Homo sapiens: one gene and its partner. The protein of the gene in region 1 purifies or fractionates together with the protein of each later gene. This does not show direct contact. Each region holds a gene or a part of one and is shown on either strand. Other genes may lie near its edges. The genes, in order: NRGN and TRIM62.

Region 1 (16,650 bases):
GGAGGAGTGGGAAGGTTGAGTGGAGGAAGGGATATCTGCCTCCAACCACGCTAGACCCGACCTGCTGTCACCGCCCGCCCCAGCTGGATCCAGAATGGAAACCTGGAATAGCAGGCAAAGCCACCCCCGACACTCCATGTTCCTCCCCAGAACCAGCTCCCTCTCCTACCAGCTGAATTTTCAGGACAGAGCTGCCAGGTGGCCAGTCCACAGGTGGAAGTGGAAGGAGATTGAAAGGACCTGGGAAGAGGTTCATTGGTCATGGTGCCTGGCTGGTGCTTTCCAAAGCCAAGGTTGCTGGTGTGTGCCTGACAGTTCCATAGGAAGTAGGGACTTCTGGGAGGGAGGAGGAGGTGGAAGGTGCCCTGGTCAGCAAAGTGGGGTCCAAGCCTTCTAGTCCCAACTGGGCACATCACTTCATCTCTGAGAGTCTCATTTTCTTCAGCCACAACTAATGAACAAAGTCTCCTTCAGCTCCCAAATCCGAATAGCTTTAAGGATATCCCCTGCTTGCTGCTTGTTATTATGTCAGGCCCTGTGCTAAGCGCTTTGCATATATTACCTCATTTAATCCCCATTTTGGAAGTCAGGAAACAGCCTCTGAGACATTTTGTAACTTAGCTAAGGTCACTCAGTTGACAAATAGTGAAGTGATGGGATTCAGTAGCCTCTGCTGCTAGCCACTGCCTCAGGGCAGGTAATTATTTCTATGAATTCAGCAGGGCCAAGCCAACTAGACTAAGCAAAAGAAATGAGGATCCAAAAAAATTCATGCGCTTTTTCATGCGCGGTGAATGCAGGAAAAGTCATATATATATATGGCTATGTAAATCAGCAACTGCAATATTTGAATCAGCATGAATAAAAAACCATTCCTCTGTCTCTTAAAAAAATAGGCAGATCTGTTTTCTTCTTCCTCATTTCTATCTGAGCCTCTGTACCAAGGAGAAACGGGAATAAGACAGGACTAGATTCTTCCCAAACACCAGGTGATGCGGTCAGTGAGGAGAGCTCCAGAATCAAAAGATGAAGAAGGACCTGCCTCTAGCCCCCAAGAGGTATGCTGTTCTTCCCACACATCTCAGCTCTCTCCCAGCACTGAGTCCAGCCCTCCACAGAAAGGGGAGGAAAATGCCCACCCCTAGCCCTGCCCTTCCCCAACCCTCCACACATCACTCCTTCTTCTTCCTGCCCTCCTGCACAGTCTGATAATGGTGCTCTCTCTTGCTCAGCCCTTTAGCCCTGCAGACCTAGGACAGGGCATGACTTGGGAAGGCTCCTGTGCACAGGGTGCACTGGAGGAGGTGCCCCAGGCCCTGGGCCATGGAGATAATTGTGTATCTGCTTCTCTTTTACCTTTTGGGTGGGTAGCCTCTCCTTTTTTAAGGGACACTGACTTCAACCATGTCTACTAATCCCTCAGTATGGCTCCCTGGGCACTCAAGAGCAACAGTTCCAGGCAGGGACCCCCACATCCTACTCTAATTACTACTGCAGACACAGAGGAGACCAATTCCATTCCTTCCCTGGCCTCTTGGATTCTTTGTTTACTCACCTCTTTCCAGTGACCACGTCTCCCACTTCCCCTTCCCCAGCAATACTCCCCTGTCATCCTCACCTCTCCCCTCCCCCCAGCTCATTTCCCAGAACCCACCATCCATTTATCTTCTCTACTTTATACAACACTGCTGGGAGGAAGGGCTCTTCCTCAGTGGAGCCCAGGAACCTCCATGAGGAGCCCATTTCTCCCTTCACAACCAAAAAATTGCTTCCTGTAGAATAACAAGCAGAGGGAAAAGGCTGGAAGGAGATATGTTATCGGGGTGTTCTCCAGGGGGTGGGACTGTAGGTGACTGACATGTTTGTTTTTCATACTTTTCTCTAGGTTTTACGTTTTCTATTATGAGCAGATTACTTTTATAATCAGTAAATATTTAGAGGAGAGGTTAAACCACAGCTCTTCGAAGAAGACAGGGCTATGTTTGAATCCTGCCTCCACAGTTAGGAGTCATGCTTCCTTGGAAAAATCTAACTTTCTAAACCTCAGTTGGCACATCTGTGAAATAATACCTACTTCACAGGGTTGTTGCTATGATTAAATATAAAGTGCTGGCTACAGGGCAGGCATTCACAAACTGGCAACTATTACTTAAACTAATAAGAGTTAAAATCGCAACCACCACCACTTGCCCCTAAGTGTTCTCTGCCTCTTGGTACCCAGACATGGGAAAGTCTCACCTATTATAGAACTGGGCTATCCTTCCCTTCCAAAGCCCACTTTTTTTTTCTTTACTATGCCATAAGGTGGCAAAGTCAGTAACCTCGTGTATCATTAGCTGGTTGACTGAATGACTGAAAATACAAGGACTTTGGAATAGTCTTTCTCCAAGTGCAGAGGCAAAAAATAAATAAGCAAACAAATAAATTTCATATACGTATGATCACTGTACTCTTCCAGTGAGGCAGGAGCCAGGGCCTATGCCAGGCGCTTTCATACCGAGTCACCTTTACAGCAAACCCCTCGGGCGCTGGGCACTTGCAGTACCCAGGTTTCCGCGTGGGCGCTGACAAATTGCAGACACTTCCTTTCCTCGCCAGCAGGGCTCTCTCGCGGTCACTTCACCCAGCCCCTTCCGAGCGAGAAGGCCTTGGGGGCCGGGACAACCCCTCCCCAGAACCACCCTGACTAGGCTCTTTGCAGCCAGCATCACTACCGAGCTAACCAATATGGACCAGCCTGCGCTGCACAGGGCGCTTAGGCGATCGTTGGAGGGTCATGAGGATCAGCCTGTCCGCCCACCGACGGCGGCGCAGTGGGATGGGGAACGGGGTGGGGGCCGAAAGACGGGAGGAAGGAGTCGCTGCAGTGTCTCCAGGCGATGGTTGCCAGCGTCTCACTGGGGAGGAAGTTCCTCCTGTCATCCAACCCGCAGTTCCCCTCTTGCAGAGCCCTGCCGAGCTCCCAGTCCAGCCTAGGCTGTCTAACGGATGGGCGCTCAGACGCCCCCGCGAGTTGAGGAGCATTTTTCCTAGGGCTTCCAAGTCGGGCGGGCGCCTTCCACCATCCACCACCCACGTCTCGGCAAGGACCCCTTTTCTTTCTGCTCCTAGGTCTTCCGCATCCACTTCCATCCCTCTCTCGCCCTCCAGGGCTTTCTCAGGCGCCTCTCGCAGCGGACCCCGCCAAGTGCCCCTCCCCCGGGCCCTCTAACTTACGGTGCAGCAGTCCATGCTGGTGTCGGGGGGTCCTCTGCGGGGACGAAGGCTGGCGCAGGGCGGGGGTGGGGTCTGTGTGGTGCCGGGTGGGGGCTCTGGGGCAGTCGGCCGCCAGCCGACCCGCGCCGAAACAGCAGCTCTGCTCTCGGGTCCGGTCTCCCGCGCTCGGCTCCGCTCGCGAATGTAACCTGAGCCCCGCGGCCGGGAAGCCAATCAGGAGCAGCCTCCGGCAGGGTGGGCGGGGAGAAGTGGAGGGAGGGCCACGCCCTCTCGCGGCTCTCTGCGCCGCGCTCCCGCTCCTGCCCCAGCCCCTCCGCCTACACGCTTGTATCCAAGCCTCCTACACACTCCATCCTCCCGGGCGCAATCCCCTGGCTTGCTAGGCGGCAGACTGCCAGGCAGATGTACGCCGGAGTAGGCAGAAGGAGGCCCCCGACACCCCGAGCACAAACACCCACATCTGGGCACAGCACCTACTCCCGCTCAGAGAAAACCACGCACCCCTCACCCATCCCTCCATACTTCCACAACCTAGCAGGAGTCCCAAATATGGCTCCCTTTCACTTCACTCCCCCTCAGTCCGCAAAGAAAGGCTCCCTAACGGGCGGTAAAAAGGTCTCATCATCACTCCTGCTACAGACGGAGAAACCTGTTGGTACAACCTGGCGATGGGCATGCGTCCACACAAAAGCTCACAAGCCCCACATGTCCACATATGATTTTCCCAGGCCTTCTTCCAGCATACAGACACTGCAGATACAACCTGCAAAAATAACTACGCAGCCCTTCAGTTGCAGGTAAATGCGGACACCCTGTTGCGGGCGCCCGCGCGCTCACGCACGCACACGGACAGTCACCCAACTCAAGCTGTCGGCATGACGTATCTATTATCGATCTGTCTACATGAGCTGCAACAAACAACATCATATATGCACAACACCTATTTTGTATGTATTTATATATGGGCACAGACTTGGAAGAAGTATCCTCCTCCCTTTCATACCAGACTCTGCCTAACCTTTTGATCTGCTGCCTCAGAATAAGACAAAAGCTGGCCATCCTCGCCCTTGCTCCTGAGAAGAAGAAAAATACCCTAAACCCAAGTGTAGAGAATTCGAAGTAATTGGCTCTTGGGTCCATGATGAGGCAGGATGTGGGCTTCGTGAGAGGCTGGGAAGGGGAGCTATGGAAAGAGCATCTGGGAGGGACAGACTGCCACTGTTGTGGTCGTCAGCCTCCCCCAACTCGGCAGGGTACAAAAGCTGGCAGTGTGGCTTGTTATGTGGGTAGGGTAGGCCTTCTCTGAGAAAACTAGAAAGTCTTCTCAGCTAAGGTCCCAGAGAAGGGAAGGAGGAAAGGATGGCTCCTGCTGGGAGCAAAGGTGGGAAATGCCCTGTGGCTCTGGTTGGGACAGCAGATCCTGAGACAGCTCTGCTGTGCATCCCCAGTCCCTGGCCATGACCAGGGACCACGTGGCGGTGACATGCTTCCTTTCCACCTAGATGTTTGGGCCCGAGGCTCTGCTTGCCAAAGGAAAAATGAGTGGGAGAGAAATGCCTGAGTCCATTCAGGGTGGGGATAAGGTTAGCCAGCTTGGGGTCCCAGGCTGAGCTGGATGCTGGCCGGGATTCCAGGGCTTGGGGTGTAGGGGTGTCTCTCCCAGCATGTTTGGGACCCACCCACTTTTGTAAAAAAAAATCTGTTCCCCAATCTGTCTCTGGCACATCTTTCATCTCCCCACCTCCTCCAAGTGGCCAGATGTCCTGGGAACTCAGGCCCTTGCCTAAATGACACGCACATCTGTGGCCTTCTGTTGTGCCAATTCCTGCTGGACTTCAACTCCAGAATCCAGAGAGGAGAGGAAAGGGGGAAATTGGGGGACAGAGTGGATACCAGGCCTAGACTCTGTGCTTTTCTCTTCCCAAATTAGAGCTGAGGAATTCGGGATTTGGTGAGTTTGCAGTCAAGTCTCCCAAGTTGCTAGGCAACATCCCTCTGCAGACTGCGCTGCCTCTGGGCCCTTCTTCCTGCTGGTCAGAACTGAAGGGGGGGTATCTTTACAACACCCCCCCCACCAACTCCCACACAGGCAGCACAGCCCTTCCCTCTTCCTGAAGGACACCTTTGTGTGGGGTGAGGGTGTCTCTGAACACTGGAGGGCCCATAGGAGAACAGATACGGCAACTGTCAGTTCCATCCGCAAAGCAACCATTTCAGCAACAGCCCACTCAAGGCGCCTACGCAGAACTGGCCACAGTGCTGGCCCTGGGGGATGGGCAGGCTCTGAGGTGAGGAAAAGACAGAGAGGAAGGCAGAGCCTGAGATGAGAAGACAGACACTCACAAACTCAAATACCAGTGGCAGGAGCAGTAACACATATGGCCTCATAGAAATTACACACACAGACCCAAAGATGCAGACACACACACTGCCCACACACCCAGAGACACACACCCTGCACGGGTTGTCACCCACTGACATCCAAAGACATGCTCAGCGTGGGCCCCTTAACCACTGTGGGGCCAAGGCACCCACTAGCGCTGGGGAAAGGTCCCTCTTCTGAGCCTCTAGGTGGCTGGGGTTTGTCAGCAAGGTGGGCTGGTGGGACTCAGCCTGTGATACTCAAATAGGTGAGCTAGGACAAAGGACAGATGCAGTAAGGGATGGCTGGGTCTGCCTCTGCAGGCTCTGGTCTTTGGCAGAATGATGCCAAGTTATACTCCCCATGGTAACCTGCCTGGCCTAGGGCCTGGGTGCCACCGGTCAACATTTGGAGTATGACCTACTGTCCAGATGGGCTTGGACTCGTAGTTGTTCTTGACTTTTCAAATTTTAAAGCTTCTCATCTACAGTCTCCAGCCCCCATAGCTACTGAAGGAAAACTGCTGGCCTGGAAAGGAGATGAGCTCTGGAAGGGAATGGCCAGGTTAGGGAGGCAACTGGGGCATGTTGGTGGGTGCCGTGGGATGGAGCCAGCAGGAAGCATGGAGATGACAGGGGTGAGGAATAGAAGCCAAGGCAGGTGAGGGATAGACAAAAGAGAGGATAAAAGATGGATTAGTGGGAAGCTCCTGTGGTCCAATACAGATTCTTCTTGGGACAGATGGAAGGGGATTTGGAGAGGGTTGGTCCTAGTAAGCAGGCAGAAAAGCCAAGGCACGTGACAATCTATTTCCCAATAACTTGTGGCTTCCCCTTCTCGGAGTGGGCACCTTCTGAACTTCACATCCTGGCTCAAGCCCGTGGAGGGACCCATAATCAGAAGGGGGCTAGAAAGTATGAGGCCTGTGTCTTTGGTGGAGCTGATCTGGGGGCTTCTTAGGTCAGGATTTTACCCATTTGAGTGGAGGGGGTGGAGGTAGCAGGAAATTCAGTTTTCTCTGCAAATATTTCAGCTTTTGCTGTTGTAGTATTTTTAGCAACCTGGTTGGCAGAGGAGGAGCCCGGGTACATTTTTAAAGGGGCCTCTGCCAGGCTGGAGGCCTCTTCCCACCCTCACCCCACATGTCAGGAAGGAGAGGGGGAGAAAGCACATGGCTTAAGGGGTCCATTCAAAGGTAGAAATCAGGTTTGCTGGACATTAGGTGACCGTTGAGTCATTTTCACCAGTAGTCATTTTGTTCTGTCATTGTCAGCATCATGATTGTTACCAGCATTATCAAGAGGAGTAAATATTTCTTGAACTTCTGCTATGTTCAGGGTGCTGCTAGAGAGGCAATACGGAAGGCTCGGTATAATATATTTGCTAAGATGGGGAAATAACCAATATTCTAGAGTGAGTTCTAGGCTAAATCTGAATAGCACTTTACAAAGTGCTACCACATCCATTATTTAAAGTGGTGCTCTCGAGAACAGTGTGAGGAGGTATTACTCTTTCTTTCTTTCTTTCTTTCTTTTTCTTTCTTTCTTTTTGAGACAGAGTCACACTCTGTCACCCAGGTTGGAGTGCAGTGGCACAATCTTAAGCAACCTCCACCTCCCAGGTTCAAGCGATTCTCCTGCCTCAGCCTCCTGAGTAGCTGGGATTACAGATGCTCACCACCATGTCAGGCTAATTTTTTTGTATTTTTAGTAGAGACAGGGTTTTGTCATGTTTGCCAGGTTGGTCTCGAACTCCTGGCCTCAAGTGATCTGCCTGCCTCAGCCTCCCAAAGTGCTGAGATTACAGGCATAAGCCACCGTGCCCAGCCTAGGAGGTATTGTTATTTCTAACCTCTTTTTCTGAGGAGGAAACTGAGGCTGGGAGAGGTTAAGTGACTTGCTATTTGTCCAGCATTAGATCTCTGAGGAAATGCAGAACTAGGACTAAAACCCAGGAGTTCTGACTTTGAATTCTGCATTTCTCCTGTACAGTGCTCCTAGCGTAAGCTAAGCAAATCAGACATAATCTCTTTTCTCTTGGATGTTGTAATCCGATGGAAAAAGTACATATATGTGCGTGTATAAAATAATGAATGATAGATACGAAAGGAATTAAGCAGACAGTAAATGTTCTGGGAGTTGAGGTGTGGAAGAAATGACTGAGAATTTGGATGGTCAAGGAAGCCTCCCTGGATGATGGTTTGAAGCAAGCATGAATCCAAAAGTATCTGAGACATGTATCAATCAATTTGGAGAGTTCATTTTGCCAAGGTTAAGGATGCACCTGTTGACACATCTTCAAGAGGTCCAGATGACATGTGCCCAAGGTAGTTGGGTATAAGCTTGCTTTACAAGTTTGTGCAAGGGGTACAGTTTGCTTTTATGCTTTTTAGGGAGACATAATACATCAATCAATACTTGCAAGATGTACCTTGGTTTGATCTGGAAAGGTGGGATAACTTGAAGCTGTGGTGGAGGGTGGTGGCTTCCAGGTTATAGGTAGATTTAAAATTTTTCTGATTGGCAATCAGTTAAAGGAGTTATTATCTAAAGACCTGGAATCAATAGAAAGGAAATGTCTGGCTTACCATGATAAGCAGAGTTTTATCATGCAGACAAAGCCTCCAAGTAGCAGGCTGCAGAGAGAATACATGGTAAATGTTTCTTATCAGACTTAATGTCTGTGTTGATGTTAATGCTGGTCGGCTTTTCCTGAATTCCAAAAGGGAGGAGGGTATAATGAAGCATGTCAGACCCCCTGCCTTCCCATCATGGCCTGAACTAGTTTTCCAGGTTAACTATGGAATGCCCTTGGTTGAGAGGAGGGGTTTGTTCAGATGGCTCAAGGGAGCCTTAGAATTTAATTTTTGGCTTACGCAAAAATACGACTTAGATAAGTGAAGAGGGCCAGGAGTGGGCAGAAGAGCATTTGAGGCAGGAGCAATTGTGAGCTATGCACCACACTTAGTGTCCCTGTGAGTGCATGCCATCCCAGCCCAGAAGGGCCCTGAGGTCAGCAATCCCAGTATCCTTCCTCTTACCCAGGGTTTTATGTCCAAAGCTCAGTGCTCTGAATTCATCTACAGTACCATAGCCCTGCTGCTCCTCAGAGCTCTAATGCACACCTGCCCCTTGCTCCTATAGATGTGCCAGGTGTCTGGATCCTCTGCCTTCATCCCATTTTTTCTAGGTCTCAGATGTAGTTCAAAATCCTGGATGCGGTAGCTCCTTATTCCTATTTTGCTCCAAACACCTACTTGTTCTTACCTTTCCACCTCCCTTTCCTCAGCTTGCTTCCCCACCTCTCCTAATGTGTGAAAGCTCTGATGGCTAAGCAATGTGTGTCCCTGCTGGGCCTGCACATCCTGCCTGCAAACATTAGACCAACACAATTTTTTTTTAATAACAAGGCACCAACCATTTGAATAACAAGCTCTAGAACAAACCTAATAATAAGCATTTCAGTGTTGGTTCAGACAACGACCTGTTTTAATTGATTTCTGCAAAAAGACTTACATGAGATGTAGTTTTTACCTTATTTCTTAGTCTATTTAAAGACGTTTGCTCCTTTTGTGGTTCTGCTGGATAGTCAGATCCAAGAAATTCCTGGTTTAACCAGCAATGCATGCCTGCTGAACCAAATGAGGTTTAAGCCATTCTCCCCAACATTGTCTACCTCTGGGCAGAAGGAAGGGGGAACTCTTATCCAGGAGAGCGATATTCTCTTAAAATCATCCAGAATGAGTGGCTCTTGCCTGCGTGTATGTGGTCAGCATCCCAGGCTCACACTTTTCCATGCTGATGCTCTCTTGGTCTGAGAGCTTGTACTGATTGTTCTAATCTGGATCCACTGGCTATGGCTATGTCATTAATTTGGCATCTAGTATTTATTGCCTCATATTAACACTTAAAAAACTTTTTTATTTTAGAAAAACTTAAACATATGCAAAACTAAATAAAGTAATGAACTCCACTGTACCCATCATCCACATTCAATAATTCTCAACTTATCATCAAACTTATTTAATTCATATGCCTTCTGATTCCCCCATTATCATTTCATTCATAAATATCTAAGTATGTCTCTCTGAAAAATAAGGACCCTTTAATGCTTACTTTTAAAGCATATGTTCATTAGCCTATACGTTCTGTGGGGAAACAGATTAGATTCTGAGGATCCAATGTACAATATGGCAGCTACAGTTAATAACACTATATTGTTTACTCGAAATTTGCTAGGAGAGTAGATCTTAAGTGTGATCAGCACACACACGTACACCAAAAATGGCACCTATGTGTAGTGATGGATGTATTAACTAATGTCATGTGCTAATCATTTCACAAAGTATACATATATTAAATCATCCCACTGTACATTTTGAATATATACAATTTTTATTTGTCAATTATACCTCAATAAAACCTGAAAAATATAAAATGAAGGCTGGGCATGGTGACTCATGCCTGTAATCCCAGCACTTTGGGAAGCTGAGGCAGGCAGATCAATTGAGCCCAGGAGTTTGAGACTAACCTGGGCAACATGGTGAAACCCCATCTCTACAAAAAATACAAAAATTAGCCAGACATGGTGGTGCATGCCTGTAGTCCCAGCTAGTTGGGTGGCTGAGGTGGGGGATCACCTGAGCCTGGGAAGTCAAGCCTGCAGTGAGCTGTGATTGTGCCACTGCACTCCAGCCTGATAGAGCAAGACTCTGTCGAAGAAAGAAAAATACAAAAATGTAAAGAAAAAAATAAAGAAAGAGATGAGAGATGTTTTCTTTACCGCTGTAGCCTTAGCACAATATCCAGAACATAGTGGATATTCAATAAATAGTTTTTGAATAATTGAATGAATAAGGCGGAGAATGAAAGAATGTATGTCAGAGGAAGCAAGCAGTAAAGAAAAGTATATTGCTGTGGTCAGGCATGACCTTCTTTGCAGCAGGTCATGATTCTGTTAGAGGTCCAGGTATGTCTTCAGCAACAACTAAGAAGTTAGGCCTTAAATAGGGAGGCAACTCTTCATCTCTCTGAGATTTGGTGCTGGGGCTTCCATTTTGAGGAGTGGAGACAGAGAGAAAGTTGATGCTGAGGTGGCCTCTTTTGGGGAGCAGTTGGGAGATAGAACAAGACTGGGCCTGAAAGCCAGGAAGGAGCCACGTCTGTTCCAATGTATCTGGTTTAATGTCACTCTCTGTCTAGTTCCATTTTATTATTTCCTTCCTTTAACTTGGTTAAGCAATTCTACTTTGTCTTAGCTGTGTGAGGGGACATTCAAAGAAGAGTTATATACTTGGCCTTGGGCCAGAGAGGCCAGGGTGGGGCAGTCAGCTTGGTGGCAGCAGTCCTTACGGAGGCATCACAAGAGGAAGCGACTTTAAGCCTTCATGGCCTTAGTGTCCTGTCGCAATGCAGGGATTTGTTTCCAGTGCTAATCTTGGAGGGTTTTATTTTTATTTAAAAAGAGGAGACATTTCTTTCATTGGGTGGTCTGACATAGCAGATCCCAATTGCTTAAATAAGCTCACAGGCTAATGACTTCTACCTATCAGGTCAAAGCGGCAGCCTGTGGGGTAGACGAAGACCACCTTTTCACTGCTGTTTATGAGGAATTAAGGGCCTAACACCTATCATCTCTAAACCAATCCAAGTCAGCCATCTGGCTGAAGATGGTGTTACCAATAATCATCTTCTACTGAGTTTTCATATGAGCTTCTCATATAAGTGTTGGCATGTTCTGAAGTTTTAGACTTCAGAAGAAAGAAGACATTGACAGGATTGTTCCAGTGGACTGTCGTCCGCTATGGCCAAGATACAGATGAGCAGATATTACAAGTCAGCCATTGCAAGGCCTGGGTGGCAGGCCATGTGCAAGCCAAGGCTTCTTCAAGGGTATACCCAAAGTGAAAGATACTTCACATAGCCCTGGACTTGGATCATGACACAGGAATTGGTTATATGAACAAATGTCTTTCTTTATGTAAAAATGAGAGTTCTCTTACCCAGATAAGCCCTGGCTCTAATCTTGGAAAATGATGATTATTTTGACTTTTCTTTTTCTTTTTGGTCAGACTGAAGCATTGAAAGGTAAAGGATTATTAACTACAAGTTTTTGCTATTCTGTAGTTTGGGTGGGACATTTAAGTTAAATGAGATAAGTAGCGATAGTTATTTGGGTTGCTGTATTTGTGTTATTTTTGCTTTGCCTTCATGGGATTGTGTGTTGGAGTGGGGTGACTGAGGGGAGAGCTGGGACGTGAGCTGTTTTTGGATTGGGTTGTTAGTGGAAATGTTTTCTCTGCTTAGAGAAAAGGCATGTTTAGAGAGAAGGAAATGAAAGTAAAAACCACACTTCATTTTGACTTAGGATAACTTTTCCATGGATGTTCAGTGTTCATATATACCTAGTAGAGAGAGTCAAAGGTTTGTACTGGATACAATCCTATCTAGTAGATGTTCTTCAAAAGAGGAAGAATATAAAGCTTGATCCTTAAAGGAGAGACAATATTGCTGTTTTTTTGTTTGTTTGTTTTTAATCTGGAGTCTCACTCTGTCACTCAGTTTGGAGTGCAGTGGTGAGATCTCAGCTCAGTGCAACCTCTGCCTCCCAGCTTCAAAGCGATTCTCCTGCCTCAGCCTCCTGAGTAGCTGTCACCTGCCACCACTCCTGGCTCATTTTTGTATTTTTAGTAGAGATGGGGTTTCACCATGTTGGCCAGGCTGGTCTTGAACTCCTGACCTCAAGTGATCCACTTGCCTCGGCCTCTTAAAGTGCTGGGATTACAGGTGTGAGCCACTGTGTCCAGCCTGAAGAAGAGAAAACACTTTCTGTTCCACTGGAACAGGATGGTGGAGCTATGCTACTTTACTATTTGCTGAACACATGTCAGATCATGACAGCAAGAAGGTCCTGCACTTGGGATAATAAGTGGGGCTGTGTAGACTGTAACGAAACCATCATGGCAGACACCGTTGCTTACCTAGTCAATATCCATGCAGTCCCTCTTCTTGCTTGATAATGCAACTGCAGTTTTGTTGGGGTGGTTGTGGATCCAGACATGACAACGGGTCATAGTCTAAGCCTGTTTAGGGCTAGTCATGAGACACAGATATAGCCAATGAGATACAAGCCAATTTCTGCTGAGGAATCTGAAAAAGCTCCTACTTCCCAGATAGGAGAGGGCAGATAGTACTACCAGCCCCTGTTTCTTATTCCCTCAAAGCAGAGCTGAAGTCTGGAGCTGTATCAGCTGTCTTATGACCATGAAGCAAAATGTCAACATGATAAAATCATGAGGGAAAAAAACCCTCATAATCCCATAGACTTAAGCCACTATCATTCAGTCTTTCTATAATAATATGTATAATATGTATATAATATGTATAATATGTATATGTATATTCAGTCTTTCTATAATATAATATAGTAATTCTATATGAATAAGGCTGGGCTCAGTGGCTCATGCCTGTAATCCCAGCACTTGGGAGGCTGAGGCAGGCAAATCACTTGAGGTCAGGAGTTCAAGACCAGCTTGGCCAACATGGTGAAACCCTGTCTCTACCAAAAATAGAAAAATTAGCCAAGTATGGTGGCAGGTGCTTGTAATCCCAGCTACTCAGGAGGCTGACACAGGAGAATCACTTGAACACAGGAGGCAAAGGTTGCAGTGAGTTGAGATTGTGCCACTGCACTCCAGCCTGGGAGACAGAGCCTGGGGGACAGAGAGCAGTTTTTTTGTCTCAAAAAAACAAAAAACAGATTTAAGTGAACGAATCCCTAATATGCCACAATAATATAAGAGATGTTCGAATGCATCAGATCAATGCACCTATCTTTTTGACAAGATGGGGACAGCATGTGGAAGTTGTTTCCAGGGATTCTTTGATAACAGACCCTGAAATGTCTAAGTTGGGATGCCTTGTAATTCAGACATAAATTTATGCAATCTTATGCAACCTTGATTTCCTAATGGGTTGTTCTAGCTTGGCTTTGCTTAGCCGAAAGAACCATTGCAGGATTCCAAGTGACTGTTTGTTGTTCCCGTAGTCACACTCAAGCCTTTGTCCCCAGTCTCTCTCATTATTTCTATCATGTCAACCTCTCCCAGTTGTCCCATGTCTGGAGTATGGGCTTGCTATAATTTGAATTACTAGTAACTAAGGAAAATTCCTTTAAGACAAAGATACCCAGAGATAGATGAGGACTGGATGGGTTTAGGCATTTTATCTCTTAGCCAAAAGGCCGATGTATATTGGTTTTAAAAAAGTGATAGGCGGTAGGCCCTTACTCCCTTATGAATGGCAGTGGCTGGCTGGTCCTCATTCCATCCAACTGGCCACTGGTTTGGCCTGGTAGGCAGCAGTCATTAATCCATGAACTTAGTCAAGGGAATTAGGATCAACCATGTCAGACAACCCAGTGAGGAATCTTCTCTTTTCTTTCAATGAAAACAAAACCCTCCAAGGTTAGCACTGAGAGAAGATTGATTAAAGGCAGAGTGAATGTTCATCTAGAGTCCCTCATTTGTGAAGCCTTTGGAGCTCCTTTGGGGAGTGGCGCCCGTTCTCTGCTGTTCCTGCAGACAGCACTCGGTAGTCCATAACAGATGCCAATCTAGTTATTCGGATATTCTGAAAGATTAGTTAGATACCCTTAGGACAAGGACTCCCTAAAAGTTCTTGTCTCCCTTAAAATGAGTATTATTTACTTTTAATTATTAGATGGAAATGGCTTATACTGAAAAGCAGAAACCTCTGGGACACTGGTAGGGCACTTCTTTTTATTATACATTTTTATTATTGTAAACCAATGTATATATACATATATACAAGGGCTTAAAAATTTATTTTAGGCTGGGCACTGTGGCTCACACCTGTAATCCCAGCACTTTGGGAGGGCAAGGCAGAAGAACTGCTTCAGCCCAGGAGTTCCAGATCGGCCTGGGCAACACAGTGAGACCCTGTATTTACAAAAAACGAAAATTAGCTGGGCATGGTGGCACACACCTGTGATCCCAGCTACTCAGAAGGCTGCGGCAGGAGGATGGCTTGAGCCCAAAAGTTCAAGGCTGCAGTGAGCTAGGGTCGCACCATTGCACTCTAGCCTGGGCAACAGAGTGAGACCCTGCCTCTAAAAATAGAAAAATAAAAAGAATTTATCTTAAATTAAAGCAAAGATTCTATAAATCTAGAAGGTCTTAAACCATTTTCCAGGGAGCACTTTCTGTGCCAAATCTTTATTATGAGCATTTATTATGTGCCATCTGCTTTGTACTAAGTGCATTACATACTGTATTGATCAAGACTCTTTGGGTGGAAAAGGATAGAAACTCAACTTACATTAACATAAGCACTGATTCACTGAAAGGGCAGAGGTGGAGTTCCAGGAATGTAAAATCCTATTAAGACTCTCTTCCTCCCTTTATGTCACTTGTTTCTGCTTCCTTCTGCATAATGCTGACATCTCCATCATGCTGGAACCGTGGCTGCAGGCAGCTCTGAACTTAAGCCATTATAGCCTTGGGACTAAGGAAGAAATAGAATTCTTCAATTGCAACCTCATTAATAATAATTGTAAAATTCCCAGAGGAGATCGCTGATAAACCAGATTTGAGCCTTATGCCTATCCTAGCACTAACCCTTGTGGCTAGGTGAGGGAAGTATTATAATTGACCCAGCCTGTGGCACAACCGTGTGGCCAGTTGGATTCATTGACTGGCAGGGCCTGCAGAACCATTTGGTAAGAGTAGGGGAAAAGCAGTTCCACAAAAGAAAAGGGTGTTTTGGACTGGATGACTAAAGAATGCACGTACATCTCAATACATTATGTTGTGTCATACTCACAATAATCCAAGCAAATACCATTGGTGAAGAAATACCATTCTCCAATGTTTTCTAGGTAAAAAAATATATATATGGGGAAAAGAAAGGTTAAGTAACTTGAACAAGGCCATACAGCTGGTAGGCAGTAAAGCTGGGCTTCTATTCAAGTCTGTTTGACTCCAAAGCTGTCCCCGCTATTTGGCCACCTCTCCTGCCTGGATGAATTTCTCCTCAATCTGTGCATTTTACTCAGAGTGACGAAGCCATTAAGACAGAAGACTAAATTTGCATATTAAGCAACATTCTCCCGCTCTGCTCCCCTCTGGGAAAGGTCATTTTTGCACTGAGGGCTCTCCCAGGGTTCTGCTTCCTTCTGGAATAACTATCTCAAACAAACCTGGGGATGTTATGAAGCCACTTAACTGGGCTGACGTGGCTGGACCAAGGGCTTAGAACAATGCCATCAGGTTTCTGTCTCCCTTTCCATTTTTCAGCAGTGCCTCCCTCAGGGTGTCTCTGTGTTAGATTCACCCTCAGATTGGCCTTTTATGGTGGTGGAGGAAGGAAGGTTATTAGAATCCCCAAACTCTCAAGAGAAAAAGACACCGTCTCTCTCTATGTACCCGTATATAAAATTTCGTGAAAGGGCTCTAAGCAACCTTTCTTGGGCGTTTGCTCATGTTACTGACAAACACTCCAGGACCACACAGACTGGGGCAGGGATGAGCCAGCCCTAGGAAGGGACCTTGGCAGTCGAAAACATGGCCACGTTGATGCCTAGCAAGGCAGAATCATTGCAGAGTAAAGAGCTGTGATCAGCTCCCCCACTTCCCTGTATGCCCTCTCGCCAAGTGTGTGCCTTATTGGCAGTCATCACACTGCCTTGCCGTTGTTTCTGTCTTACCTTCCTCACTAGGCTGTGACTGCCTATAGAACCAGGATTTGGCCTTTCATTTTTTTGAGGTGGGGGGCTGGGGGGGAGGGTGGTGTCTCGCTCTGTTGCCCAGGCTGGAGTGCAATGGCGTGATCTCGGCTCACTGCAACCTCTGCCTCCCAGTTCAAGCAATTTTCTTGCCTCAGCCTCCTGAGTAGCTGGGACTACAGGCACCTGCCACACACCTGGCTAATTTTTTGTATTTTTAGTAGAGACGGGAGTTTCACTATGTAGGCTAGGCTGGTCTTGAACTCCTGACCTCAGGTGATCCCCCCACCTCGGCCTCCCAAAGTGTTGGGATTATAGGCATGAGCCAC
Region 2 (16,266 bases), on another chromosome or scaffold:
AAGAATGAGCTCCTGAAGGGGCACTGACATCATTGAGCAACTCAGTGGTGGCTGCCCCTTCTATATTGTGTTGTAGCTGCTAGGGAACTGGAGTTCCTACTGTTTCTTAATGGTGACAATAGGATTCCAGAACAGCAGAGGCCAGGTAGCAGCACTTAACCATCAGACACATAGTGTATGGAATTACCATAATGGGCAGCAAAGTCAGAAACTCAACCAAGGGGCCCTTACCCACAGAGATCTGTGGGATTGCTAATAGACCCTGAAGTTCCTAAGGGCGAGATCAGTGGGTGACTAGCAAGGGTATTGCTGCCCAATATAATAAAAACAGATCAAGAGCATGTAATGTGAAGACTGAGGTGAGCCATCACAGTGGAAAATCACTATCCCTCACCCATTTTTCATGCTTAAGCTAGTCCTCAGACCCAGTACCACAGTAACTGTACACAGGAGAACAAAAATATCCAGATATTTCTATAGTTGGGGAATTCAGAGTCCGGACTGACACTGATTCCAGGGGATCCAAATTGCCACTATAGCCCTCCTGTTAAAGTAAGGAGATATGGAGGCAAGATGATAAATGGAGTCTTTGCCAAAGCCCATTTTACAGTGAGTCCAGTGGGTCTTCACACCCTCCTGTGACTATTTTCCCCATCCCTGAATACTTAATTGGGATTAGTAAACTCAGCAGGCAGTAGAAACCTCACATCGGTTTCTTAATCTGTAAAGAAACTGGTGAGGGTCACCCAAAGCAGAGGTGACAACAGTATGTGTATATATATATATGTGTATGTGTGTATGTATATATATACGTATATATGTGTATATATATATACGTATATATATACATATATATATATATATATATATATATATATATATATATGCTGGAATGTGAATTTCTGAACCCCAGCCCCAGCACTACACAAGTTGATACAGAAGTGTGGTTGCGGCGCTAAGAGGCAACAGCTTAACAACTGACAAGAGTTACAATAAACGATGTAGAATATATATATATGGGGGATCAACTGATTATATAGCCAGAGTTTCCCATTGTAAGTTGTGTACTGTCAGATCCACCCAACTGTATAGTCGAGTATGTGCAACAGTAATCCATTGAAGGGTGGACATGGAACGTTGTCATGAACTAGGCCTGAGCAGGACCAGAGGTCACAAATAAACTACAGAAGCAGGCCCAGAATCCCCTGTTGTGATCCCTGCATTGGAACCTCTCCCCTCAGCTCACACTTATGAAATCATGAGAGATTCCTGATGACCAGGTGACAGAGGAGGAAAAAGCTTAGGCCTGGTTTATGGACAGGTTGGCACAATAGGTTGGTGGAAAACAAAAGTGCACTCTTACTGCACTACAGTCCCACTCAAGGGCTCCTGAAGAACAGCCATGTGGAGAATTTTTTGCAGGGGCAGAACTTTAGGCGGTGCATTGAGTCATCAACTTGGTGCAGAAAGAGTCGTGGCCTGAGGTCAGGAATCCCAGGCAGTAGTGAACAGTTCAGCTGATTGCTCAGGGACTCGTGAAGAGCAAGACTGCAAAATTGCAGTTAAGGAGGTCTGGGGAAGAAGCATGTGGATTGATCTTTGAGAGAAGACACAAAAATATGTGGGTCTCTGTCTCATTTCATTGTCTACCAGAGGGTGTCCATCGCAGAGAAGGTGCTGAACAATCAGTTAGATAGGATGATTCATCCAGTGGAAATGAGCTTATCTCTCTCCTTAGCTGCCCCAGAGCATGCACAACAGACCCATAACTGAGAAGCCATGGTAAGAGGGATGGAAGCCACGCATGGCCCAACAGCATGGGCTTCCTCTGGCCGAGGCTGACCTAGGTATTACTACTAAGTGTCCAATCTGTCAAAGCACAGGCAGGGCTGAGCTCTTGACATGGTACCACCCCTCAAGGAGGGCACCCAGCCACATGGTGCCAGTTGATTACACTGGACCCAACCACCCTGGAGGTGCTGTGACTCTTCTATGACTTCATGGGACTGATACAGATTTGCCTTCTCTGTCCACAATGTCATGATCAGCAGCACTCTCTCAGAGTTCCCAGGGTGTGCAGTTTATCATCAAAGCATTCCCCCATAACATGGCCATGGAGAAAGTGAGCACATGACCATGTTATTCACTGGTCCTGCTATTTACCATACCAACCAGGGCTGCATCCTGAGAAAATGCTGGAATAACCACTTGAAGGCATAGCTAAGTCATCAGCTTGAAGATAGGGTTGAGAACCTGTCCTTACATGTTTGTTTGTTTGTTTGTTTGTTTTGAGATGAAGTCTCATTCTGTTGCCCAGGCTGGAGTGCAGTGGCACAATCTCTTACTTCAACCTCTGCCTCCTGGGTTCAAGGGATTCTCTTGCCTCAGCCTCCCGAGTAGCTGGGATTACAGGCACCCGCCACCACCCCCGGCTAATTTTTGTATTTTTAGTAGAGACGGGGTTTCACCATGTTGGTCAGGCTGGTCTCAAACTCCTGACTTCGTGATCTGCCCGTCTCGGCCTCCCAAAGTGCTGGGATTACAGGCGTGAGCCATCACACCCTGCCTCCCTTACATGTATTTCTATACTTGAGACAATAGCTATTGTAAGGGTGCTACATCCCCAACAGTCAGAATACATAGGTCTGGAAGCCAAGAAATGAGTGGCCTCTCTCACCTTTATTCCCAATGACCCACTTGGCAAATTTATGCTTTCTATTGCCAAAGCTTTAGGCTCTGTTGAACCAGAGATCCTAGTTCTCAGAGGGTAGGGAGAGATCACTTCTACCAGAGGACATAATTGTGGTTTTACTAAACCTAAAATTATATCTGCCTCTGGTAATTTTGGGATCCTCATGACAGCAGACCAGCAAGCTAAGAAAGGAGATTCTGAACAGGCAGGAGTAAGTGACCCCTGCTGGACCAGGTGAGGGGCATCTAGAAAGGGTAGTAGAGTCGGAAGCTGAGCATCAGTTACACTTTAGGACCAACTACAGCAGTGGGGTCTGGAGATTGTCCCTCCTCTTATCTGTTATCCTTTCTACCTCTTCCTCTTCCTTCTTCTCCTCTCTTCTTGTAACAAATCGTGACTTTCCACCACCCAAAGAAGCAGTGACAGAACATGAAACTTAATATGAATGCAAGTTTATCTGAGCAGGTGCAAGGGTGAACTGTGACACATACTGTCAATGCCCTGCCATTGTCCCTCAAACCTGTCAATGTATTCCCAAGACTTCCAACTGCCAGCATCCACATGGTAGCTAAGGGATCATTTTCCCAGAACTACAGAGAGCTGACTGTACACATCACAGTTCACAAGTGCCAAAGAATTAAACACCACCAGGGAGCAGCCTCAACACTCAAACATGGTGTATAAATACCCCAGCTCCCTCACCCTTTGGGTGGGATGCTTCTGAGGCATCGATCATTCTGAGGTTTTGTACCATTTCCCAGAGTTTCCCTGCAGGATAAATCTTCAGTTCCCCTTTGTGATAATAGTGCACCCTTATGGGGCTGCCTTCCCTTCCCTGTATCACCTTCCCACTTCCCTATTAGTGTTACTTATGCTCCCCAAATAAACTATTTTCACTTTAGTCCTTATCTTAAGGTCAGTTCTTGGAAGAACCCATGCTAAGACACATGTGGCTCAAGGACTATGCATTGAGAAGCACTAATTTAGAGAGTGAACTCATTTCTTTTTTTTTTTTTTTTTTTTGAGACGGAGTCTCGCTCTGTCGCCCAGGCTGGAGTGCAGTGGCGGGATCTTGGCTCACTGCAACCTCCACTTCCTGGGTTCAGGTGATTCTCGTGCCTCAACCTCACAAGTAGCTGGAATTACAAGCACCCGCCACCACGCCCAGCTAATTTTTGTTTTTTAGTAGAGATGGGGGTTTCACCATGTTGGCCAGGCTGGTCTCAAACTCCTGACCTCAGGTGATCCTCCTGCCTTAGCCTCCCAAAATGCTGGGATTACAGGAGTGAGCCACTGGACCCAGCCACAACTTTGTTTTATGTGTGTTTCTGCTTAGAGACCCTTATTTAATATATAAATTGTTGATTCACTAGCACTGAACTCACAGCCAACACTACTGTAACTCATGTCTGAACAAAGCTTATCAAGCACACGTATTTTCTCCTTAAGGCACATCACAGCCTTCTTGTGCTTGAGAACACCAGAGAGCACTTCAGCACAATGCTTGGGGCCATTTTAAATAGCAAAATCACCAACAAAAAGGCACAAAAAATGAGAACGGTTCGCACCAAATAAGTCACAAAAAGAATACTTGTTTACACTATGACAGCTGAGACAAGAAGGCAGGGTGTCCCTTTGTTCACCTTCAGCTGGGAACATATGTGTGGGTAAGTCAAGATTTTCACCACTGCACATAAGTATGTCCACAAATAATAGCAATTGTGCCTCAAGTATTGATTTGAAGGTTACAAATAAATTTTAGAAGTAGGTGATTTTGCAAATATGGAATCCATAAATAATGAGGATCAATTTTCTTTATTTTTTCTGATTACAAAAATATATATAATAAACAGAGCTATCTAATGTAAAAGTTAAAGTCCCCCATAATCCCAGCCCACAAAAGAACACAATTAGAATATAGTTCTATAGAATTTTTGTTATGCAAATAATGCCTGTGATTGTGTCTAAGTCTGTGGGTGTCTATGTGTCAGTGTATTTGGGTCTTTCTTTTCTTTTTCTCACTCAACAATAGCTCTTGGATAGCTTTCCAGAAAAAAAAATTCCTGATGTTAATTTCTGGAGTATGAATGGAAGCAGATGGCATACACTGCAGTCAGGATCTCTAAGTCTTAGTTCAGACCACTCAACCACATCAGATGTGGAGAGAGCAATGACTTGCCAAATGTAAAGATAATCAACAGTTTTAGTGTTCTGCATCTTAATGGAGATGGAATAAGGTCAAGAGAAGAACTGCTCAGAGGATAAAAGGACTGAACACTGGGAAGTAAAGTGAAAGAGAAGAGACTGGGTCGGGCACGGTGGCTCACACCTATAATCCCAGCACTCTGGGAGGCCAAGGCAGGCAGATCACTTGAGGTCAGGAGTTTGAGACCAGCCTGGCCAACATGGTGAAACCCCCTCTCTACTAAAAATACAAAAATTAGCTTGGCGTGGTGGCGGGCACCTGTAATCCCAGCTACTCGGGAGGCTGAAGCACAAGAATTGCTTGAGGCTGGGAGGTGGAGGTTGCAGTGAGCCAAGATTGCACCACTTCACTCCAGCCTGGGCAACAGAGCAAGACTCCATCTCAAAAGAAAAAAAAAAGAGTCTGTGACTTTCAGCCAGAGAAAACCACATACTATGTCCTTTGGAGGAGATTAGACCTACATATTAAGACTATCTACTGAAAGGATTTAGACAATAGAGTAAAATAGTACCAGAGCCTCTTCTAAAAACAGCTGCAAAATTGGCTGGGCGCAGTGGCTCATGCCTGTATTCCCAGCACTTTGGGAGGCAGAGGCGGTTGGATGACCTGAGGTCAGGAGTTTGAGACCAGCCTGACCAATATGGTGAAACCCTGTCTTTACTAAAAATACAAAAATTAGCCAGGCATGGTGGTATGCGCCTGTAGTCCCAGCTACTAGGGAGGCTGAGATAGGAGAATCACTTGGACCTGGGAGGCAGAGGTTGCAGTGAGCCAAGATCATGCCACTGTGCTCCAGCCAGGGTGACAGAGCGAGACTCCATCTCAAATAAATAAATAATAAAAACAGCTGCAAAATAGTATGGAGAAAGCTGGGCTGCTGCAACAAAAGACCCAAAATACAATGGCTCTTAGAAAATAAGTTTACTTCTCACTCTGTAGTCCATGTCAGGGTGGCTGTACTTCATGCAGTCATTCAGGAACCCAGGATCCTCCCATATCTTTGCTCCATCAGCCCTTTTGAAGCATTATTGAAGCTGTGTCCCTGGTACATCTATGTTCCAACTCAAGAGAAGAGAAAATGGAGCATGGGAGAGCAAAAGCTTCATGCCTTAAGGTCTATTTCTATTTATGTTCTATTAGAAAGATTTTAGTCACCAAGTCTCACTCGGCTGCAAGAACAGCTGGGATGTATGATCTCTAGTGGACCAGCCATTCCTCCGACTGCTACTCTACTACATAGAAGAACAGGAGGATGAAGTTTAGTGGACAGCTAGCAATTTCCATCACATCTCCTTTATTTGAGCCTTGGTATCTTCCTCTATAAAACGGGGATAATAATATAAACTAGTTAAGGCTGCTTTGGGACTGAAATCCAATAATATATGTGAGAATGCTTAGCAAGCCCTACTGTGCCTGATAAGAATTTCTCATTGATTTTGCCCTCTAGACTGCCAGCTCCTTGGGAGCAAGGAGCATAGTTTATTCCACCTCCTCACAAAGACCTGCTTGGAGTCAGCATCAGTAAATACATGTTGAATAATGAAGTCACTGTTTCATCCATCATCAAGCCTTTTTTTTTTTCATTTCATTTCAAATGCTTCAATAATTTAGACTCTGCCCTGTTCACTTTCCCCACCCCCTCATTAGGGGTGCACGTCAGTATATCAGTTGGGATTCTCTGGGTTGCAAAGTGACAATGCACTACTGTTAAACTGGCTTATGCAATAAGATGGACCATCTCACATATCCTGAAGTCCAGACTCTGCATCAGAATAAAAGCTTCTCTTCCCTAGGACTCTCTTGGCCTTGCCCTCCCTTCTGTATTTGCTGCATCCTCAGACTGGGAGCAAGATGGCTGTTGCAATTCCAAGCATTGCCACCAAACATATCCCAGCAAAGGGGGCAGACTGTTTTGCAAAGTAAAGAGACCATTTCCTGAAAACCCCTCTCTGCCATAGGCTTCCCCTTTAGTTTTTCAGGCTGGACCTGCCCAAACCGTCACTGGCAAGAGGAATGAGACCACCATAATGGACTTGGACCAAACAAGACTCACTCCATGAGACCACCATAATGGACTTGGACCAAACAAGACTCACTCCTGGAAATGGGCTGGGGTCAGCCTTCCTTGGGTCACTTGGGGAAGGGGGCCACCTGACCAAAATCAGGGCTCTGCCCATAAGAAAATGTTGAGAAACTGCTGTTGCATGAGCAACCAACTATTTTTCTCGCAATGATGGAGATTCTGGGCCAGATGAGGGTGTGATGGAGAAAGTGTTAACCATAGAGAACTAAACTGAGAGCTTTTTCATAAACTGTACCTCAATAAAGTTTAACACCAATGAAGATATTTCTGGAGGAGGCAGAAACTGGTAGCCACCCTCTATGGCTCATTTCCCTCACCCCCGTATCCAACCATCACCAAATGTCACCGTGTCTGTACTTGCAATACCCTAGTCTTCTCTCCTTACCCACTGCTGAGGCCCCAGTTCGGGTCTCACCTCCTGCAGGCACGATGACAACAGCACCTTAGGGGTGCCCAGTCTTTCCTTCCTCCTGCAACCCAGGGCGTTGATGCGGTTATTCAGCTACACACCTTTACTGTGTGCTGAGTGCTGTGCATCCGCAGACACATTGGAAAAGCTCCCTGTCTTCTTCACCTTGCAGATGGTATAATGATTATCTCCAAGACTTCCTGAAACCCAATCGGACCAGGTCATTCCCTTGCCTGAAAGCCCCATGCCTTCAAGAAATTCTTTACCATGACCCACAATGCCCTCCAGCCCACCCAGGCTCCTTCTCCACCCCACCCCCAACAGTACAGAATTACTAGCACTTCCTTCACTGCGCCCTCCCCTTTCACGCCTCTATGCTTTTGCACAGGCTGTCTCCTCTGCCTAGAAATCCCTTATCCCCTCTCCATCTGGCACACAAGACAAGTTCTCCTATTACTTTTTCTCCCTCTCTCCTGCTCCACCCCTCACCGCCTTACACACACACACACACACACACACACACACACACAAATACAGCACTCCAGAATTGTTTGCCAATGGAGGCAGCCTCCGGGGCCAGATGTTAGCCAGGGCTTTCCAAACTTCTCCCCAAGCACTCCTTAAGAAAGTGAAGAGGAAATGGGACCCCAGGGCTTAGGAGTGTGAGGGCCTTGAACTCGCTCTAAGCAAGCAGGGCATTTCAAGAGTTTTATCTTTATATTTTATGCAGAAGTTGTATTCCAAATATATTCTTGTTCGTTTTAATACAAAATATGATTTTTTCTACATCTTCAAATCGATGATCCAGAAAGATGCTCCTTGTTTATTTGTTGTGCTCTCAAATTAGCTGCTCCGCCTCGCCGCGGGGACCCTAAGCGAGACCTGGATGCAGTTCCAAGTACACACCCCGAAGGAACAGCTGGGCTTCGCTTCCCTGGGAGCTGGAGGATGGTGGGGGTGGGGCGGGGTCAACCGGCTGGTGGCCCCGCCCCTCCCCCGCCCGCTGCGGGGGCGGAGTTGCTTGGGTCCCGCCCACGGGGGCGGGGAGGCAGCCGCGGCCACCGGCAGCTCGGATTCGGCTGGTTCCGGGTTGAGAGGCTGCGCTGGACCGAAGCGGTGGCTGCTAAGCTCGCGGGGGTAAGGGGTCGCGCTGGGCCAGGGTTTGGGGCCGGGATCCGGCAGCTGAGCGGGCCGGCACCCCTCCTCTTCTCTGCCGGTCACAGCCAATGTACGGCTCGGCCTGGCTGCCCCCTCCCCCAGGATTCCCCATCCCCAGCTTCTCGCCCTCCCCGCACCGCCCCCACCCCGGGATTTCGACCCCCTTAAGGGCTCCACCCCGCTCCGGGATCCCCTTCTCCCAGCTCCTATCCCTTAGGACTGCCCCGCCCCCTAGAACCTCCCCGTCAGGATCTCCGTCCCTCAGCCGCTCACAGCCTCCTCCCAGCGCCCATCGCCTTGAGCTGCCCACTACCTCTAGACTGCCCTCCCGGGCTGGCGTCCCACGGAGTCTCAGCCGCGCACCCCTTCCTCGCGTTACCCTCCTTCCGGACAGCACCCCCTCCCTTCTCCGGTAGCTCCTACCCCTGCCTGTGCGGGCCTCGTCCCCGCGCCCAGCCCTCGGTGCTGCCTCCGACAGCGCCGCGCTCTCTCAGCCGCCCCCCTGCCCCTCGGGCCCCCCTCTCTGCTGCCCCTGGCGCCATGGCGTGCAGCCTCAAGGACGAGCTGCTGTGCTCCATCTGCCTGAGCATCTACCAGGACCCGGTGAGCCTGGGCTGCGAGCATTACTTCTGCCGCCGCTGCATCACGGAGCACTGGGTGCGGCAGGAGGCGCAGGGCGCCCGCGACTGCCCCGAGTGCCGGCGCACGTTCGCCGAGCCCGCGCTGGCGCCCAGCCTCAAGCTGGCCAACATCGTGGAGCGCTACAGCTCCTTCCCGCTGGACGCCATCCTCAACGCGCGCCGCGCCGCGCGACCCTGCCAGGCGCACGACAAGGTCAAGCTCTTCTGCCTCACGGACCGCGCGCTTCTCTGCTTCTTCTGCGACGAGCCTGCACTGCACGAGCAGCATCAGGTCACCGGCATCGACGACGCCTTCGACGAGCTGCAGGTGCGCTACCCGGCCTGCCTGGGGAAGGGGCGGGGCCGGGCTGGAGGTGGGGCCGGGCGGGGGGTGGGGTCAGGGCTGGACCGCGGGCCAGGCCCAGTCAGAATGGTCCTGGGGCGGGGCCGCCAGCAAGGTCAGGGCCCTATCAGGAGTAACGCGGGGCAGGGAGGGGCGGGGCCGCCGCATGGCGGGGCCGTGGGGGCGGGGCCTTGGGCAGTCCGGACCCTGAGGGATCTGAGACAGACCTGGAGTACCGGCTGGTCCGCGGTTAGGGAGAAGTCGGGGATGCGGATGGGATGGCGGAAACAAGTGAGATCAGAACTGGACCAGATACTGGGCTGGGGCAGGGTTGTGGACGAACCGGAATCAGAGTTGGGCAAAGGCAGGGCCACTGTCAGACTGAGGGCGAGGTCGCGAGGATGGGTCTGTATTAAACCGGGTAGCTGAGCTCTGGCAGGCTGGGGGTTCTGTGGGGGCGGAGACCGGATCAGATGTGCATCAGGACTAAGAGGAGTACGGGGGCTAGAATGTGCTGGACAGGTGAGGGTGAAACCTAATAGAGTGGTATAAGTTAGGGTGCCAAAGTGCTGAGAGGGCAGGTTTGAGTACCGAGGGTTAGGCCAAGGTGTATGAGGGGTTAAGACTGAGATCAGGTCCGGATACTCTACAACAAGTTTAGATTTAAGCCAGAGTAGAGGCCAGGTTGAGTGGGGCCAGGACTTAAAGGTAAAGATTTGGAGAATAAGGCCCAGATGTAAGGTGATTCAAGAAGGGAGGGGCTAGACCTCTAGGAGTCTCTAGAGGTTTTTGATGACCTCTTTGGCTCTGTCCCCCACATCAGGACTTTTGAAGACTAAGTGAAACGGTACATGCAGAGTGACCTGAGCATAGTTGGCATAGAACTCTAATCGGTCTCCCTTAAGACTTCCTGTCTTCACTGACAAACTCCTACTCAACTTTTATTGAGCCTTGCTCAAATATCCTCTCCGTGAAGCCTTCTCCAAGTTCCACTGGTCAAACAAACAAACAAACAAACAAAAACATTAGAACTGCATTTCCCCAAATGCTCTCTATTAATAAGTGTGGGAAATATAGTATATTTTTTATACCCACCCCCTTGGAGAATTTTCAGTGTGCATTTGCATATTAAAAGCTTAGAGAAATTTTGTTGCAAATAAATCTATTTTACTGTGTTTAATAAAATGGTTCCCAAGCTTACTTGGGCCTGGAATCCTTTTTTCAAGCTAAATCACTTAAATCCAGCAGCCCCATGTACCTGGCTTTGGGATACTAGTCGAGCACGTAGTTCTCCAAGGCCAGAGACAGAATCTTATTTCTCCTATCTATGGCCCCAAAGCCTGGTGCAAGGCCTGGCCCACAGTACACACCAATAAAGGCCAAATGAATGAACGAAAGAATGACCAACCCTGGCCTAAGCTGGACCACACTGTGGAGCGTTTGGAAGCAGAAGGTTTTTGGCTCAAACATTTTATGAAAATGGAGTGGGCTAACTTGGGAGGTAATGAGCTCTCTGGCCTCGAGATACTCAAACAGAAACTAAATAATTACTTTCCCCTGTATTGTAGGGGCTCCCAACCCCTCCACACACTAGTCTTTGAGTAGGCCTGCACCCAGCAGATGCCCATGGGCCTCAGGAGAAATGGCCCATGTTCACCATCGCTCCTTCCCTGTCCCTTTTATCTCAAAACTACAACTGACTCCCTTCCAGTCTAGCTGTCTGAGGATGAAGGCCCCATCAGAGGGTGAGCAAGGGCCTGGGCCTCTGGGAGCCTGCACAAGGCTTGGCCCTCCACCCCCAGAGCCATCGTTTTAGGCGCTGCTGCTGTCCATCTCCCCGTCTATGGAGTCACATAAGCAGGAAGAGTTTGAGGGGACTCTGTCTGAAACCATCTGTCCAACCTCTTCATCATGTAGGAATGGAAAGTGAGGCCTGGAGAAGTTATGTGACTTGCCCAAGGCCACACTTCCAGACAGTGAGAGAGCCAGGGCTATAGGGCACAGCCTGACCCAGATCCCTCTTCTCTGATCTCTCCCCTCCTTGTCTGACCTTCTAGCCTCTGCTTCAGAGCCTTGGTTCTCCTGTCTGCAAACCAGGAAATCCAAATTACTGTATGTTGGGCTTCTGTACTCTATCCCATGACCTGGGGGACACAGGAGAAATTGAACATGTATTACCTACAAATATTATTGAAATGCTTCATTATTGGGTGAAAAGTAAAACAGGACTGCCACTTGCTTACTCTCTAGTGCACTGTTGTGGGGTTGGACATACTTGGGTTCCAAACCTGCTGTGGGCACTGTGTGCACCTTGGTGAGTCACTTCATGTAAACGCTGATGCTCTGTCTGTACAATGGGGTCAGGATGCTTCCTTCCTACCAGGACTTTTGTGAAGCTGACCTGGGATTAACCTGCTATTTGAGGTTCAAAGGCACACAGTACGGGCTGGAATAACATACAGCCCACCTTTTCTCTTTCTGCCTGTGAGAGCTCATGTGCCCAGCTGAGTGAATGCCCAGACTCTCCTCTCTGGCCCGAGAAGGAGGCCTTGCTTTAGTGTGTCCTCTGGGCTTGGCAATTTGGTGGCAGAGAAATCTGCCTCCCATCTAGAGAGGATGTGCTGCTGGGTGAGATTCAAGGCACCCTCCACCCCACCTGCCTCTCCCTCCATATGGGGAAGGCAAGGCTTATTAGCTATTTATGCAGCAGAAATAAGGCTGAACCCACCCTCACATCCCCTTCTCTCCCAGCAGCTGATGGAGCTGGGGCCCTTCTGCAGAATTACAGACTCAGAGCCATGCAGATGATCTGGTGCCACATCCACTTGACAGATGGGGAAACAGGAGAGGGAGAGGGAGGAAGGGAACTTGCCTAAGGCCTCGAAGCCAGAGGAAGCTGGGCCTATACTCAGCTGGAGTCTCCCAACACCCTACCTAGCAGTTGGCGTGCAGCTTTTACATTTATTATAAATCCTTGAGGCATCAGAGCAGAGAAATTAAGAGCCCTGCTTTGTACCCAGGTAATCTCAATCCTGGCTCTACCATTTACTGTGTGACTTTGGGAAGATTATTTACCATCTCTGAGCCTTGGGTCCTTCATGGACAGCATGGAAGTAATTATATTAGGATTAAACAAGATGATGTTTATAAAAACTTAGTACTGCACTTGGCACCTAACAGCACTCAATAAATGACAGCTATAGTAGGTTACATCGTACTCGGCATTATTGACATTTGGGGCTAGATAACTGTTGTGCAGGGCCATCTTGTGTGTTATAGGAAGTCTGGTAGCATTCCTGGCCTCTACCCATTAGATGCCAGTAGCAAACTCCACCCACCCCGCAAGTTGTGACAATCAAAACCATCTCCAAGCATTGACAAATGTCTCCTAGAGTCAAAATCACCTCTAGTTGAGAAACCTGACCTAGAAAAGTCCCACTGAACTTTAAAACTTCAGGTCAAATATCACCTCCTCTGTGAAGCCTTCCCTGACCTACTAAGCACAATTGCTTTGTACTCCAGATTACATCACAGGGGTCAGATCCTGACATGCTGTGTGTCCTTGGTCACGTCACTTTGCTTCTCTAAGGCTCCTTCTCTAAGGTTCATCTATAACAAGAGGATATGATGTTCCTGGGAAGGATGTTGTAAGGGTTAGGGATCCTTTATCAGAAGTGCCTAGTACTGTGCCTGGCATAGTAGGCACCCCAAAACTATTTTTAAATGTCTTTATTCTGATTATAAAATTAACATAAGAAGCAGAGCTGTATAATGTAAAAGTTAAAGTCCCCCCATAATAATACCCCATGAAACATGGCAGGAGTTACTATACAGTTCTAAGGATTTTTATGTAACCTGTGGGTGTGCATGTGCGTGTGTGTGCATGCGTACATGCATGTGTGTGTGCATGTGTGTGCATTTGTGCATGCATGTGTGTGTGTGCATGTGTGTGTGTGTGCGTGTGTGTGTGCATGTGTATGTGTGTTGGTGTCTTCCTCCCCACCTCCACTGCTGAGTACCTGGACCACTGAGCAAAGTGGAGGGAAGGAGCCCATTTCCAAAGAGTTCAGGGCTTCTCAGCCAATATTCATCGAGCCCAGTCTGAATGCCTGGGACTGCACTAAGGGCTTTTCTTGCATTACCTCATTTAATCTTCATAGCACCCTGTGGGATGGGTATTGTTATCTATTTCTTCTACTGATGAAGAAACAGACTCAGAGGAATTAAGTGACTCATTTGGTCACGCAGCTGGTAAATGGCAGGGCCAGGATTGGAAGCCAGTCTGACTAGGCCACATACCGTCCCTGAGCTACCTCTGAGGGCTGGGTAATTGTCTCCCAGCCACCCTGCCTGTCCTGTATTGACAGGGCTAGGCCATCTGTGCCAGCTGACGCCCCGAGGGCAGGTGGTTGGGACGTCATCTTGGTCAGAGCAGACGTGGCATCCGGCTCTCTGGCCGTCTCAGGTTCCTAACCCCCAGAGAGGGGATCCGATTCAGTCTCAGCCGCCCCCTCCAGGCCTCATGTGACCATTGGAGCCCTTCCCAAGGCTTCCTTCATGCCAGAGAAGACAGCAGTGGATCAGCCTTGGACGCAAGCCCTGGTAGGCAGGGTATGGTGATCCAGTGACACCAAGGCAGCCACCCAAGGAGGGAGGGGGCTGGGGGCTAGGTTCAAATTTCGGCTCTGGTTTCTTCCAGGAGAGGGGGTGACACCCTCTTACCCAATCTGAGAAATGGAAGTAAGAACTAGCCCTCCTGCTTTCTGTATAAAGAGAGAGAAAGAGTTGCTAAATATCCAAAGAAATGAGAGATTCAGAGGCACTTTATTTTGTAGCATGGACAGGAAGGCAGCTGGGTTGTCTGTGTTGTGGGGAAGTGGCTCTGCTGTTACTTTTCCAAGGAGAGGGCAGGATTTCTATGCCAACAGCAGCCTCTGTGAGGGCAAAGCTGGCTGTGGGTCAAACTCAGAGCTGGCCGCTGGCATCTCCACATCCCTCTTCACAGGTGTCTGGGCAGCCAGGATACCTTTGCTGAGCACGGGCCACAGTGTAGAAGCTTAGGGCCAACATTGGGGACCCCAAGATGTTTATTTTATAGAAAGAAAAAAGACCTGGTAGGGACTAACAATGATGAAACAATGACTCTATAAAATTATAGCCCAAGTTTTGGAGGCACAAAGTAAGTTATGGGGCACTTACTGTGTGCCAGGTGCTGTGTTATAGGCATTTGATTCTCACAAGGATTTTTTCGTTCCCTACTCCCTGAGTGGGACTGAGATCAGTACCATCTCACAGATGAAGAAAATGAGGCTGAGAGATTCAGTAACCTTCCCAAGATCACACTGCAAGTAGGAGGAAGAGCTGAGATTCAAAGTGGTCTTTCTGACTCAGAATTCACCCTCCTTCCCAACACGCCAACTGTCCCAGGGAGCACCAAATGGGGAGGAACCTGAGAAACCATCTGGTTGACACGCTCCCCATTTTGCAGATGGGGAAACTGCCTTGCCCAGGGTTAGACCAGAGCTCAGCTCTCCCGACTCAGTCCAGTGTTGTTTTCCCAGTACCATTTACCTTCCTGACCTCCATCTCTGCTTGAACACTCAGAGGGATGAGGCAGATTTGGAGGTGAGTTCTGTCTTGGATTCAGGGATTCCTTTAATAATTTCTGGGCTGGGCGCAGTGGCCCACGCCTGTAATCCCAGCACTTCAGGAGGCCAAGGCAGGCGGATCACCTGAGTTTGAGATCAGCCTGGCCAACATTATGAAACCCCCATCTCTACTAAAAATACAAAAAAAAAAAAAATTAGCTGGGCATTCGTGGCACACACCTATAATCCCAGCTACTCGGGAGGCTGAGGCACGAGAATCGCTTGAACCGGGAGGCAGAGGTTGCAGTGAGCTGAGATTATTCCACTACTCTCCAGCCTGGGTGACAGAGTGAGACTCCATCTTAAAAAAAATACATATACATATACATAAACATATACATATACATATACATATACATACATGTGTGTGTGCATATATATGTATATGTGTGTATATATATATATATATATATATACACACATATATGTATGTGTGTGTGTGTATATATATATATACACACACACACATAATTTCTTTAGCCAGTATCTGTGCCATGGCTACAGAGGGCCAGCCCTGTGTTGGGCCCAGGAGAGAACTACACAAGACCTGGCCCTGTGTGGTCCCGAAAGATAGGCCCATAAACTGGTAGGTTGCTGTAACTGAGGCTTGCTCTGTTGAGCTGAATCCTAAAAGATACGCTGAGTACTTCAGGCCAGGGAGCAGAAAGAAAGATGTTATGGACAGAGGGAACAAAAACATGCACAGCCTGGTGCAGATTGTTCCACGGACTGGGTTCAAGGCTTTGACAGGCAGTCATGCTCTCCTTCTCTCTCTCTCCCCCAGCCTACCTCTCATTTAATTCTAACAGTAACCCTATGAGATGGATCTCATTGCCCCATTTTATAAATGGAGAAACTGAGGCTCAGAAACTGTGCCTAGCTGGGCACAGTAGCTCACACCTGTAACTCCAGTACTTTGAGAGGTCAAGGCAAGAGGATTGCTTGAGCCCAGAAGTTCGAGACCAGTGTGGGCAACATGGCAAAACCCTATCTCTATAAAAAATGCAAAAAAATTAGCTGGGCATGGTTTCATGCACCTGTAGTCCCAGCTATTTGGGAGGCTGAGGTGGGAGGATCACTTGAGCCCAGGAGGTTGAAACTGCAGTG

The links.
Region 2: the proteins of NRGN (region 1) and TRIM62 purify together in Homo sapiens (affinity purification with mass spectrometry; 2 studies listed by BioGRID and IntAct, with this or other methods). This does not show direct contact.

The regions. Positions count from the first base shown.
Region 1 is NC_000011.10:124,726,666-124,743,315, reverse strand, and holds the start of NRGN (neurogranin), read right to left. Parts: upstream 3,375-16,650; 5' UTR 3,232-3,374; coding exon 3,217-3,231; intron 1-3,216.
Region 2 is NC_000001.11:33,174,255-33,190,520, reverse strand, and holds the start of TRIM62 (E3 ubiquitin-protein ligase TRIM62), read left to right. Parts: upstream 1-8,477; 5' UTR 8,478-9,088; coding exon 9,089-9,496; intron 9,497-13,970; exon of another isoform or gene 13,971-14,068; coding exon of another isoform or gene 14,069-14,113; intron 14,114-16,266. UniProt on the Homo sapiens protein: E3 ubiquitin ligase that plays a role in antifungal immunity by mediating 'Lys-27'-linked ubiquitination of CARD9 downstream of C-type lectin receptors; leading to CARD9 activation, followed by activation of NF-kappa-B and MAP kinase p38 pathways.